4 linked regions of the Homo sapiens genome follow. The protein of the gene in region 3 interacts with the protein of the main gene of each other region in a biochemical or structural test. Each region holds a gene or a part of one and is shown on either strand. Other genes may lie near its edges.

Region 1 (3,500 bases), on a different chromosome or scaffold from region 3:
GGGACTACAGGCATATGCAACCATGCCCAGCTAATTTTGTATTTTTTTTGTTAGAGATGGGGCCTCACTATGTTGCCAGGCTGGTCTCAAACTCCTGGGCTCCATTGATCCTCCTGCCTCGGCCTCCCAAAGTGCTGGGATTACAGGCACGACCCACGGTACCCAGGCTACTTTCTTGATCCACAGCTGAGGTGAGGGTCACAGGGCCATGGGAGGGACTGGGACAACCCTGACCCTGATGGAGCAGAGAAGCAGCTCCAGGGCTGAGCCTGGGGTGGAGGGAAACACCCAGACAGTAGATGACAGAGGCTGGAGCCCTACCTGTGGTGACTGCTGGGCTGGGGCCTGGAGGGGAAGCCCGGGATTTGGACACGGTCCCCATCTTCCCTTTGAAGCTGCTGTTCAGTCGAGACTCAAGCTCTGCATAGACGGCTGACATCTGGAGGGAGACGGGGGAGAGTCCAGCCCATTCTGCTTCCCCTCGTAGCCCTAATGTGGTCCAGGCCTGGGTGGGCCGGGAGGCAGGGATATGCCCCAGCCTGAAGCAGCACAGGGACGCCTTGGCCTGGGTCTCCTGGGCCCAGTCCTATGGACCGTCCATTCCCTGCCCCCTACTGACCCCACGTGGAGGGCAGAGAAGGTCTCACCATCTTGGGGTTGGGGGTCTCAGGGAGGGACGTGCCGTCGCCTGCCTGGCGCTCGCCTGGGATCAGGGGAAGAGGCATCTCAGGGCACTCGCTGGGACCTACCGGGGAATAATGTCATTACCGTATCTGAGCTCTACGGCTCAGGCCCCGGCCCAGAACCAACATGCCCCGCAGACCCAGGAGGGCCAATCCTGAGCCCTGCTTAGCCCCATTCCCTGGGATTCCCCACCTCACCAAGCCCATTTTGCAGGTGGGAAAACTGAGCTCCATTCATACCCTCCCCCTGACACCAGCCTTACCGCAGCTGAGGCCGGCCTCCAGGCCCTGGGACCGGAGGCTGCGGCGGCACATGGAGGAAGCCCGCAGGGAGCTCCGCGGCTGGGGCTCAGGCGTGGGCTCGGACTCCAGGTCCAGCTCAGGCTCCGGCTCTGCTGTGGGACATGCAGGGAACATGGGGCCCTCTTGCCCTCTCAGCCAGACAAGGGACCTCCAAAACAGGGAGGGGAGGGCAGATGTCATCTGCACCAATATGCAGACCCCAAGCTACGGGGCCTGCCCTGCTTGCCTCCAGAACAGCTCTTGAGGGGAAGCCCCAGGGCAAGAAACCAGGTGCCAGGAGCAGCACCAGAATGCAGCACCAGAATGCAGCTAGCCTGAACTCAGGGGCCTAGCAGAGATCTCATGACAACAGCTTCCAGAGTCTCAACGCCCTGTGCTTGCCCCAGGCCAAGTCACTGCTGCCCAGAGAGGATTATGGGCAAAATAGAAGTGTTTTTTTTTTGAGACTGAGTTTTGCTCTTGTTGCCCAGGTGGGAGTGCAGTGGTGCAATCTCAGCTCACTGCAACCTCCACCTCCCAGGTTCAAGCGATTCTCCTGCCTCAGCCTCCCAAGTAGCTGGGATTACAGGTGTCCGTCACCATGCCTGGCTAATTTTTGTATTTTTAGTAGAGATATGGTTTCAACATGTGGGCTAGGCTGGTCTCAAGTTCCTGACCTCAGGTGATCCGCCTGCCTCGGCCTCCCAAAGTGCTGGGATTACAGGTGTGAGCCACTGCTCCCGGCCAAAATAGAAGTTTTTTGAGCCTACGCAGATATGTAAGGCATGTGTGGTCCAGCATGGATCCTGAGCTTCTCGCTAAAACCCTAGCAAATTGTGGGTCCCTGGGACTGCAGCTCATGGGCACACAAGGACCAGCAACTCTGCAGCGGCCCCTTCCCTTTCCTTCCTTTCCTTTCCTTCCTTCTCTTCCTTCTCTCACTTTCTCTCTTTCTCTCTTTTCTCTCTCTCTGTCTCTTTCTCTCTTTCTCTCTTTATTTATTCAGAGTCTGGCTTTCTCATCCAGGTTGGAGTGCAGTGGCACAATCTCAGCTCACTGCAACCTCCACCTCCCAGGTTCAAATGATTCTCGAGCCTCAGCTTCCCAAGTAGCTGGGACCACAGGCATGCACCACCATGCCTGGCTAAATTTTTGTATTTTTTTTTTTTAAGCAGAGATGGGGTTTCACCATATTGGACAGGCTGGTCTTCAACTCCTAACCTCAGGTGATCCACCTGCCTCAGCCTCTGAAAGTGCTGGGATTACAGATGTGAGCCACCACACCTGCCTTTTTTTCTTTTCTTCTTTTTTTTTTTTTTTTTTGTGACAGGTCTCACTCTGTCCCCCAGGCTGGAGTGCAATCAAGGCTCAGTGCAGCCTTGAATCCCAGGCTCAACAGATCCTCCTGCCTGAGCCTCCCCTGCAGCTGGGATTACAGGTGTGTGCCACCACACCCAGCTAATTTCAAATTTTTTTGCTATGTTGCCCAGGCTGGTCTCCAACTCCTGAGCTCAAGTGCTCCTCCCACCTCATCCTCCCAAGTAGCTGGGACTACAGGTGCATACCACCACGCCTGGCTAATTTTTTATTTTTTTTTTCTTTGAGATGGAGTCTCACCGTGTTGCCCAGGTTGGAGTGTAGTGGTGCGATCTCAGCTCACTGCAACCTCCGTCTCCCAGGTTCAAGCAATTCTCCTGCCTCAGCCTCCCGAGTAGTTGGAATTACAACTGCGTACCACCACACCTGGCTTATTTTTGTATTTTTAGTACAGATGAGGTTTCCCCATGTTGGCCAGGCTTGTCTCGAACTCCTGACCTCACGTGATTGGCCTGCCTCAGCTCCACAAAGTGCTGGGATTACAGACGTGAGTCACCGCGCACGGCCACCCCTGGCTGATTTTTAAATATTTTGAATATATGGGGGTCTTGTTGTGTTGCCCAAGCTGGACTTGGAACTCCTGACCTCAAGTGATCCACCCACCTCAGCCTACCAAAGTGCTGGGATTACAAGAGTGAACCACTGCACCTGCAGCGGCTTTCATAGCAGGTGCAGGATGCCTAGAACAGGGTAGAACACAGGCTTCGGCACACCTTCCATCCACATGACCTGCATGCTGAGTGCAGGGGTTTGTGGGCATTCGGAGGGCACGCTGAACAGACAGGTGGCAGCCACACATGGCACTGCAGGCCTGTGTGTGTGCAAGAAAGAGTACACTGGGAGCCCACCAGCCAGGTGGGATGTGGTCGTGTGCTCATGATCCTGGTGGTGGTGTTGGCATGTCTGGCAACCACGTGAGTTTCTTTCTTTTTTCTTTTTTTCTTTCCTTTTTTTTTTTCTGGAGGCAGTAGCTTGATCATAGCTCACTGCAGCCTTGATCTCCTGCACTCAAGCCATCTTCCCACCTCAGCCTCCTAAGTAGCCGGGACTACAGGTGTGCATCACACCTGGCTAAATTAAAACTTTTTTTTTTTTTGGTAGAGACAGGCTCTTGCTATGTTGCCCAGGCTAATCTTGAGCTCCTGAGCTCAAGTGATG
Region 2 (3,500 bases), on a different chromosome or scaffold from region 3:
TGTACGTGAATGTGTGTAGTGTGCATACGTTGCTAACCCTAAATGAGCCTTGAGTACAGAAACTGCACTTTAATTCTGGGGCCCTCTGGATCGTCTCCTTCAGCTGGGATACCTGGAACCTATAGGGTTACACGTCACAAACCAAGAACAACATGTTCATCATTGACCTTATGGTGCAGAAAGTATCTCTTTATCCACTGAACTTAAATGTCAAAACTGATAAAGAAAAACTTTTGGAAGATATTTATGTGGGAACGCACATCCCCCATTGAATGGCTCATTATAGTTGGGCCTTGAACAACCCAGGGGTTAGGGGCGCCAACTCTCACGCAGTTGAAGATTCATGCATAACTTTTGACTCCCCTAAAACTTAACTACTAGTAGTCTATTGTTGATCAGAAGCTTTACTAATAACATGAACAGTCAATTAACACATATTCTGTATGTTATACGTATAATATACTACATTCTTAGAATAGAATAAGTGAATTCAGGCACAGTGGCTTACACCTGTAATCACAACTAATTGGGAGGCTGAGGCAGGGGCATCACTGGAGCCCAGGAATTTAAGACCAGCCTGGATGACACAGCAAGATCCTATCTCTAAATAAATAAATGAATTAAGAAAGTAAGCTAGAGAATAGAGAATGTTATTGAGAAAATCACAGGGAAGAGAAGATATACTTAGAGCACTGCACTGTATTTATTGACACCATAAGTTTACATCATCTGTTTATGAGATGAATGGTCTGAAATGGTGGCAACCACGCTGCAGACCTCAATCTGTGGTGCACAGCAAACAATTCAGCTTTTTGGCAATGCTGTGATATTCCCGCTTCTTGGGGCACTTGCAACATCCCTTGTGGCACTTCGTGTGGGTCCCGGGGTGTTATTCAAGGTTTACGTTACTGGACTCAACACGAAGGAGGGAAGGTACACAAGAACTCTGAGAGATCACTCGTTACCATGCTCTGCAATTTACTGGAGAGAGAAATTGCTTCCACAGGGATGATTAAGACATTTTACTCAGAAACCCATGTCACACTATGTGCTCCAGTTAACCATGGGCAGGAATGATTGAACGCTGCATCTTTACCTTTGTCTATATTCCTCTCCACTGCAGATGGTGCCAAATTGATTGATTTATATTTTACAGGAGTAAATGATGAAATAGACTAGTATCTACATATATTGTATGAATTCACGACATCTCTAACTTTTTCTTAATGTTTTGATATTTTTAAGCTACACAGTTTGTCTTAAGAGGTTTTTACAATTGTTAAATTGTTTTCAAAAAATTTTCCAACATACTTATAGAAAACAATTGGCATACAAATGAGCCCACGCAGTTCAAGCCCATATTGTTCAAAGGTCAATTGTGTTTCTTTCCTATCACTTGCTATATTTGGGCAGCTGTGTATTATAATAGAAGAACACCAGGTTTTGGAGTCAGATAAAATTTGAGGCCTTTCTTTGCCCAGTATTAGCTGTTTGATCTTGAGCAATTCACTCTCTCAGAGCCTCCACTTTTGAGCTGTGAAATGGAATCGTGATAAAAATGTTGTCATAACTTCACATGACAGAGTGGCCAGCATGCAGGGCTCACATCCCGGATTCACATGAGTTCACTACGTGCTTTCATAAAGACACACGTCCTAAGGCAATGCTGAGCCAGGCCGTACATGTCGATTTGATGTCTGCTTTGCAGCTACCTGGCTTCCTGGCAGGGTCAGCTCTGGCAATATCCAGAACAGCATTTCCAGCCACCCCCACGACTGAAGAAAGCCCACCCCCCACCTAGGACTGCAAGACATCATCTTATTATGTTCCCTTTCCTGAAAAAAACAAAAAGGGTTGTATTCTAAAATTACATATTTTTTCTATTTATATTTATTATGAAACAATTATAGCAACAATAAAGGGAATTTAAAAGATAAACTTATTACTATGTTTTGTCATCTGATTTTTAAAAATATGTCAATAATTATTAATATAACCTTAATAATAGGACAATAATTAATATTCTCTTTCATGCAATGTGAATTTGTACATATAACTGTATAAATTTATAGTAGAATTACTTAAAATATGTTGTAAGATTTTAAAATATTTCTCAATGGTCTTTTGATTATTCTTCAAATATCATTAATTTAAGGAATATCCTTAAACATTCTCATACATATAGCTCTTTGATTCCTCTGAACTCAGTGTTGTAATGGACTCTTCTTTAGATTCAATTCTGAGGAGTGAGACTGCTTGATCAAGCAAGGGATTGTTTTTCCACTGTTTAGCCTCACAAAGAATGTGTTGTAAGTTCTACAAAAGGAAAATTAATTATTCATATATAGCTCATTTCCCCAGATAGTTCCTGTAGCTCCTTTAAAAACAATCACTCAGACCTTGTGGATCGCAGTGTGTTGATACGACTGGAAACCCTGAGCACTGAAGTTCAAGGTCAGCGGCTTGCCGTCAACAGTCAGTCAGCGGCTGGCTAGGCCATCGGGTTTCCTCGTCTGGACCGAGCCTTCGGGTTTCGTCGTCTGGACCGAGCCTTCCGGTTACCTCGTCTGCACGGAGCCTTCGGGTTGCCTCGTCTGCACGGAGCCTTCCGGTTGCCTCGTCTGGACGGAGCCTTCCGGTTGCCTCGTCTGGACGGAGCCTTCCGGTTGCCTCGTCTGGACTGAGCCTTCCGGTTACTACGTCTGGACTGAGCCTTTGGGTTTCCTCGTCTGGACTGAGCCTTTGGGTTTCCTCGTCTGGACTGAGACTTGACCCGGCTTCTTCCCACCTCTGGGACCTGGAACTCCCTATCTTTAGAGCATTTGCTTTAGAAAATGTATTATTGTATGTTCTTTCTCTGCCATTTGATACCTGAATCTTTCTAGAAGTCTCTTGCTGGCTGTACAACCCAGGACTGTCTTTCTCAAGGAGCTGGGAGCTGTCCCTTCAAAATGTGATCACTGGCAAGATGGCGTCATCTCCTGTCCCTGTGGAAGGATGGAGCCCAGCCTTGGTGGGTGCTTGGCTCTAAGCTGTGCAACCACCTCCTGTCATGAAGATGGGGGAAGCTCTCTGTTTCTTTGCAGGAGGCCAATTAACAGACAATGATGGCCCTAATCTCCTTCCCATCCCAACTTGTAGAAACCCTCTCATCCTTTGTTTCAGTGGAGTTGAATCTCTGAATCTCTCTCTCTCTCCTATCATAATAGACTTGAATAAGGTCTTCTTGCCTTCTTCGCCTTTAACTCTGGTGCAGTTTTGTCCTGACATGGCTTTAGGAAAATCATTTAGGAATTCTTCCTCTCAGTGTTGATATTATCCAAACAGGACTACCCCGAAGATCCGTGGAGAACACGTTCTAGAACTCTTAACGGCCACTCGCGACAGGCTCCCGGAACACCACTGCTTCTAGCACGTGGAATAGAGCGGGATTCGGGATGAGCTTTGCAGCCACGTGAGTCTGGGCCCCATCCCTGTCTCTGCTTGGCTTCTGGAAAGTC
Region 3 (3,500 bases):
CTGAGGAGGGAGGATTGCTTGAACTCAGGATTTGAAGGCTGCAGTGAGCCATGATCATGCCATTGTACTCCAGCCTGGGGACAAGCAAAACCCAGTCTCAAAAGAAAAAAAGAATAGGATATTTTGATACTTTAAACTCATAGTGATTAGCTTCTGAAAACCACACACCTAGGAACATCTGAATGGTCCTAAAACGCGCACGCACACACACACACACACACACATACACACACAGAGAGAGAGAGAGAGAGAGAGAGAGATACAGTTGCTCCTCAACTTACGATGGACTTACCTGGATGTAACCCCATCATAAATTGAGGAGCATGTGGAATGCAAGCATCCTAAGTCAGGAACTGCCTGTATATCACTGTGATTATAACTGTGTTGTAAGTGTTGTAAGTATTTATGGTTTTCATGTCCCTGCCTTCTCTCACCTATATACCTCTGCTCAGGACATTCCTTCTTTGGGAACTCTCTTCGCCTTCTTCTCTACCTCCACGCTGCAGCCCACTTCCCTAATGTCTGTTATCCCTTAATACTCACCTCAAACATCATCTTTCTAAGGAAGAGCAGTGCCCCTGCTTCCTCCCCAGCTTGGTCCAGGACTGAGTTGATGTTCTTCTACCAGCAACTGTTGCACGTAGTCACAATTGTTAGTACTAATGGTTTCATTCTCTCTCCCACGACTAGACTGTGAGCATCTTGAAGGAAGAGACCACGTCTTCTTTGTTTTCGTATGTCCTGACTCTTCACAACACCCAATGCCTTTCACCTAGTAGCATATTATGTAAGATGAAGGAATTACAAACAAATGCATGAATTTCCACGGCTATTGCCTCACCTCACTAAACTACAGCAATAGCACCCTAATGTGTCTCTCTGCGGCCAGGCTCAAGCCCTATTCAATACCCCTCCTCACCACTGTGAGAATGACCTTTTAAGAATGCAAACTGACCGGGCGCAGTGGCTTACGCCTGTAATCCCAGCACTTTGGGAGGCCAAGGCAGGTGGATCACCTTTGGTCAGGAGTTGGAGACCAGCCTGGCCAACATGGCAAAACCCTGTCTCTACTATACAAAAATTAGCCAGGCATGGTGGCATGTGCCTGTAATCCCAGCTACTTGGGAGGCTGAGGCAGGAGAATCACTTGAACCTGGGAGGCAGAGGTTGCACTGAGCTGAGATCACACCACTGCACTCCAGCCTGGGCCACAGAGTGAGACTCTGAGACTCTGTCTCAAAAAAAAAAAAAAAAAAAAGAGAATACAAACTGATTATATCAACTCCTGCTTAAAATATATCATTAGTTTCCCATAATCTGAGAGGAAGGGTCCCGTCCCTTTACCATAGTGCACGTGACCCTCTCCCCTGCCTTCTTCCTAGTCCCCCCACTTGCCAGTACCCCGTGTGCACTCCAACCCCAGCTGTAAGGAATATGCCATGATCCCTCCCACACCACCACGCCTTTGTGCAGGCTGTTCCACCACCTGGAACAGCCACATCCCACCATCCCTGTGAGTTTCCACTCGACCTTTGAGACTGAGCTGGAGCACATCTTCTGGGAAGTTTTCCCACCCTTGAATTGGCTACATTATATTTCAGTGCTTGAGAAATAGATTTTTAAAGTAATCTCGTCTTAGTCGTCTCAGGTCTTTATACAGTGTTACATTTTTCTGTGAGCCTAACCTCACATATGCTGGTGCTTCTGAACATCCAGTATCTTCATGCCTCCTTCTTGATGCCTGTGGCTTCCCAGAATAACCTTTTCCCCTCTGTCTTCCCCAGGCATCTTTCCCACGACATTACTCTAGCATTTGTTGCATTCTATTTATCTTTATTTCTACTTATTTATCTTTTATTTATTTATTTTCCATTAAACTTAGGGATCCTTCTAGAGAAGGAATTTCTTTGGCCAGGTGTGGTGGCTCACACCCGTAATCCCAGCACTTTGGGAGGCTGAGGAGGGTGGATCACCTGAGATCAGGAGTTCGAGACCAGCCTAGCTAACACAGTGAAACCCTATTTCTACCAAAAAAAAAAAAAAAGAAAAATTAGGCAGGCATGGTGGCAGGCATCTGTAATCCCAGCTACTTGGAAAGCTGAGGCACAAGAGTCTCTTGAACCTGGGAGGGGGAGGGTGCAGTGAGCCGAGATCACACCACTGCATTCCAGCCTGGGCAACAGAGCAAGACTCTGTCTCAAAAAAAAGAGAAGGAATTTTTGTCCTGTTCATCTTTACACCCTCAGCACCCAAGGCAGTAGCACCTAGCATTTTCCCCAACATAGTATTCGTAAGTGTTTACTAAAGAAATATATCAAAGAATGAATGGATTAATTAATTGACTAATCAGAAGGTGAAGGTAGCCAATGTGTTAGTGTAGTGAAATTGTGGTGGATATTTTATTACTTTATTCTTGTTATACTTGTTATTGATTGATTTATTCTTTATTCTTATTACTTTATAAATTCTTAGACATAATAACTTTCAATGAAAGGTAAACACTTATTCATCCTTTGAGCTCAGGAAGCCGTTGCTGTTGCCCCTACTGTGCAAATGAGCTGTGGCAGCCCCAGAGGAGAGCTTGGAAGTATGAGTGATAAGAGGGCCAGGCCAACAAGGGGTGTAGGGAACATGTGGCCCTATGGTTTTTGATCCATGGCTGCATATTGCAATTACTGGGGAGTTTCCAAAAATCCTAATGCTTGGATCCCAGCCTTTGATTCTGATATAATTACCTGGGATATGGCCTGGGATTCCAATATGCAGTCAAGGTGAAAAACTATGGATGTGGAGAAAAACAGAAGGAAACAGCAGGCTGATTTCCTCCTAAACCTCGTGAAGCTGGAAGCTGCACGAGCCCAGCTGGTTACATTAGGAAATGCCGTCTATGCTGCCAGTTCATCCACCCCCTGGCTCTATTTTGTCTTGCTTTCCCTGTTCATCCCAGAGCATCCTAACAAAGTTATCGATGAAATGTCCAACCTTGTTTGGAAAAGAGATCTTTCTGAACTTTGGTTGTGAAAATTGGGGGTTCTGCTGGTGGGGAGCGCAACTTCAGTGGACTTGCAGCAGTGGGGAGGGCAACAGCAGGTCTCAGCCCCAGCTGCCCCCTCCTCCTAGCATGATTAAGCTCACTGCTGCTCTTCTTTGACGTCTTCCACCTTCAAATTTGTCTTGATGTCTGCCTTAAGCTGAGTTCCCCCTTCTTCCTGGAACCCTAAATTTGACAAAGGCATTTCTGCCCCCCGATAAAATATAGGTATATTCTCTCTTTTTCTCCAGTATGCACCAGGACACAACAGGGTATGCCTGCCTTCTCATTCAGCCAGCCAAGAAATCAGACGCTGGATGGTACACGTTGTCAGCCAAGAATGAAGCCGGCATCGTGTCGTGCACTGCCAGGCTGGATATATACGGTAAGTGTAATGCTGTTAGTTGAACATCTGTATGCAACTGACAGCTTAAAAATATTTTTTTAAAGATAAATGGGTCAGGCAAGG
Region 4 (3,500 bases), on a different chromosome or scaffold from region 3:
AGGGAGGAGGTGGCATGGGGTGTATTAGAGGAGGGGCTTCTAGAAAAGAGGGTACAGGGACAAGATGGGCCAAGACTTTTCTCCCTCGGGTCTCCTGAAGCTGGCTGTGAGGGGAGGGTCTCGGAGTACCGCGCCAGTCTTGAAGGGGCAGCATGCCTACCCCCTCCTCAAAACTTCCTGTTAGCCGCCTCCTCCCCATCCCCACCGACACTGACATGCTGGGGATCGGGCAATCTGTGGGACTAGGGCTCCCTCCCACCACTCTTCTCCCACCCGGGTTACCGCCTGCTCTGCACCGCGCAGCGCCAGTCAGGGCTTTAGCCAATCAGCAAGGCGGTCACGGCGGCTGAGCCTTCCCATTGGCTGGTTCCTCAGAGGGCGCTCCTCGACTCCCGCCTTCCCCAGCCCGGCCAGGCTTTGGCTGGGGAGGCGGTAGACGGCGGCGTGTAGGACGCTCCGGGAGTCCCCGGGTCTGGGGGCCGCCATGGCAGGCAGCCCAGGCAGCGGGGTCTCCTTGGAGGGTATATCCCTGGAGTCTTCTGAGGAAGCGGAGCTCCAGAGGGAAGGTAGGGAAGGGCGGGCCAGATGGGGGCGGGGCAGCTGGCCCCTTAGCCTACCTTCCTCCAGCAGAGTCGGGGCATCTGGGGAGGGTGGCCTGGGAGAGGTCATCTGAGGGCACCTTCAGGAGAGCTGTCCTGGGCAGAGGGCACCAACTCCCTTGGCTCAGTCCTCCCCTAGATAACGGAGGGAATCTGGCATACCCTGGCAGGAAGGGAAGGGTCCCTGCCCTGGCCTCTTTCAGAGCCCACTGAGGGCCTCGCAGGTCTCTGACCAATGCCAAGCCCCGGCCTGGGCAAGAGGGGTCTGAAGGGCAAGCTTGCACTTTTTTTTCTGGAGAAGGCAGGGAGCAGGAGGAGGAAGGAGATGGGAGTCCAGGAGTCCCTGAACCATCTCTGCCAGCTCCAGTTCCAGTGCCCCCTCCTCCCCACTCCTGTTCCTTCCTGGAGGAGGGGGGCACTGACAAGAGCATTGAGAGGCGCCAGGGGTGCATCCTCCGCCGTCCTCCGTGGCTTGGGTACTGTTATGCAGATGTAGGCATGGGCGGCATGGTGGCAGAGTAATGATACCCTTCGCCCATCTCTGCCCCCAGCTGGGCACATTCTGCTTCTCGCTTCCTTTCCCCGGAACTTGCCACAGCCTGGAACTCCCACCTCTGTCAGTGAGTGAAGGCAGCCCTCACCTCAGGTCTCGGGGGCATTGTTGCGGCCCAGCTGCAGGTGTTATCGTGTCCTCCATTATGTCCCATTTCGGGCTGAGAGTTTGCTTATCCCTGTGATGACTTGGTGTGACCTCAGCCTTTGGGTCACACCAAGGCCTCCAGTGCCTGTTTCCCTAGCTCCTGCCAGCGTTCCAGGCCTCAGCTTTGACTTCCTATCATCCATGTTAATTTCTCAGTGATTATAGATCATTGTCACTCAGAGCTGAAGGCCTGTAAACATCATCTAGCCCAATCCATCCATTTTACAGGCAGGAAAGACTGAGGCCAGTGAGGGACAGTGACTTGTACAATGTCACACTGAATTAGTGGTGCTTAGACTGGAGGCTGCAGGCCCTGGCTCCTGTGTGGCTGCCTGCTTGACTCTGGGCCTGTACTCACGGACTTGCTCCGAGTACTGTCTGTCTCATCCTTGAGCCTGCCAGGTACAGGTGGCTGAGCCCTGGGCTTCAGCCCATCTAGAGGTTGAGTGAGGAGCTTGTGGTTTTCTTTTCTTTTTCTTTTTTTTTTTTTTGAGACGGAGTCTTGCTCTGTCGCCCAGGATGGAGGGCAATGGCAGGATCTCAGCTTACTGCAACCTCCGCCTCCTGGGTTCAAGCGATTTTCCTGCCTCAGCCTCCCGAGTAGCTGGGATTACAGGCGCCTGCCACTACGCCCAGCTAATTTTTTGTATTTTTAGTAGAGACAGGGTTTCCCTGTGTTGGCCAGGCTGGTCTTGAACTCTTGACCTCAGGCAATCCACCCGCTTCGGCCTCCCAAAGTGCTGGGATTACAGGCGTGAGCCACCGCGCCCGGCCAGAGACAGTCTTGCTCTGCCACCCAGGCTGGAGTGCAGTGGCGTGATCTCAGCTCACTGCAATCTCTGCCTCACAGGTTCAAGCAGTTCTCCTGCCTCAGCCTCCTGAGTAGCTAGAATTACAGACCTACACCACTATGCCTGGCTAATTTTGGTATTTTTAGTAGAGATGGGGTTTTGCCTTGTTGCCCAGGCTGGTCTTGAACTCCTGGCCTCAAGTGATCCACCCAACAGCTTGTGGTTTTCTGGTGCAGGGCAGGATCTGCAACCTGACACCTGCTTCCCTTTCTCCCTTCTCTCCACCTCAGAGTCTCTTCCAGCTGCCTGGAGCCTCCCACCTGCTCAGGCTGGCATTACCTAGGGTGGAGAGAACAGGCCAAGGAAATTGTCCCCTTCCTCCAGGATCCCTGTCCCAGGCATTCAAGGGCCTGGGGTGCCTGTGCTGGGCAGGGAGGGGAATGTTGCCGGGGAGGGGCTGCCTTCTGTGGGACATGGGGGTGGGGAAGTGGCAAGTATTGTGGTGTGTTTTGGTCTTCTGTACCCAGCTGGTACCTGTGTATCTCACTGCCCGTACCTTCCCCCAGCCATGCAGCAAGTCCTGGACAACTTGGGATCCCTCCCCAGTGCCACGGGGGCTGCAGAGCTGGACCTGATCTTCCTTCGAGGCATTATGGAAAGTCCCATAGTAAGATCCCTGGCCAAGGTACAGTGCTCCAGGGAGGTGGGCACAAGGGCACTGTGCTTGGGGAGGCACAGTAGGGGATGGGGTATTAGCTACAGAGGGCTTTGGGAATGGGACATGTGGCACAAGAGGCCCCCCTGAAGGGGATTGTAGAAGAAAATCATGCCCAGGTGATGACCTGAGTGGCTGCAGGTAGAGGGGGCTGCCCCCACACCTGTCTGGTGAGTGCGTGGGTGGATGTTTGTTGACTGCCAGCTTGTGGAGTGTGTGATTGGTGCGGGCTAGCATGCACATGTTGGAGAATCTCTAGAATTCATCTTGCCTGTCCTTCTGCCTTTGGGCGTTTTGTGTGTATGTCTTTCTAAGGTCACCTGCCATGTATCAGGTTGGGGAGAGATTGACTAAAAGAGAAAATTATAGGACAATTTGGTAATGACAGTGATAGAGGTGGATACACTATGCATTTTGGGAGCATAAAGGACAGGTGTCTAACCCAGCCTGGGGTGGGTGAGGAGGGCTTCCTGGAGGAAGGACCACTTGAGCTGAGTGGAAGAATGAGGAAGAGGGGGAGGGCATTCTGGGCCACAGAAGAGCTTGAGCAGAAGCACAGAGGTAAGAAAGAGTCAGGAGTGTGCAGGGGATTGGAAGGGCTGGTGTGAGGCTGAGCCTCAAGTGTAAGACAATGCGAGCTGTGCAAAGGTTGGCAGGTCTGGAGGGCACTGGGGGCTGTATGTGGGTGCTTGGGC

What was found. Proteins that work in one complex are often made in the same cells at the same time.
Region 1: the proteins of MYPN (region 3) and GRID2IP interact in a test that uses a peptide from one of them, tested with the Homo sapiens proteins (one large-scale study listed by IntAct).
Region 2: the proteins of MYPN (region 3) and SNTG2 interact in a test that uses a peptide from one of them, tested with the Homo sapiens proteins (one large-scale study listed by IntAct).
Region 4: the proteins of MYPN (region 3) and MPP2 interact in a test that uses a peptide from one of them, tested with the Homo sapiens proteins (one large-scale study listed by IntAct).

The regions. Positions count from the first base shown.
Region 1 is NC_000007.14:6,509,962-6,513,461, forward strand, and holds part of GRID2IP (delphilin), read right to left. Parts: intron 1,079-3,500; coding exon 947-1,078; intron 746-946; coding exon 648-745; intron 440-647; coding exon 322-439; intron 192-321; exon of another isoform or gene 55-191; intron 1-54.
Region 2 is NC_000002.12:1,261,849-1,265,348, reverse strand, and holds part of SNTG2 (gamma-2-syntrophin), read right to left. Parts: intron 3,455-3,500; exon of another isoform or gene 3,328-3,454; intron 3,014-3,327; exon of another isoform or gene 2,931-3,013; intron 1-2,930. UniProt on the Homo sapiens protein: Adapter protein that binds to and probably organizes the subcellular localization of a variety of proteins. May link various receptors to the actin cytoskeleton and the dystrophin glycoprotein complex.
Region 3 is NC_000010.11:68,203,488-68,206,987, forward strand, and holds part of MYPN (myopalladin), read left to right. Parts: intron 1-557; exon of another isoform or gene 558-772; intron 773-3,282; coding exon 3,283-3,416; intron 3,417-3,500. UniProt on the Homo sapiens protein: Component of the sarcomere that tethers together nebulin (skeletal muscle) and nebulette (cardiac muscle) to alpha-actinin, at the Z lines.
Region 4 is NC_000017.11:43,897,537-43,901,036, reverse strand, and holds part of MPP2 (MAGUK p55 subfamily member 2), read left to right. Parts: intron 1-412; exon of another isoform or gene 413-484; coding exon of another isoform or gene 485-566; intron 567-2,656; coding exon 2,657-2,775; intron 2,776-3,500. UniProt on the Homo sapiens protein: Postsynaptic MAGUK scaffold protein that links CADM1 cell adhesion molecules to core components of the postsynaptic density. In CA1 pyramidal neurons, required for synaptic KCNN2-containing channel function and long-term potentiation expression.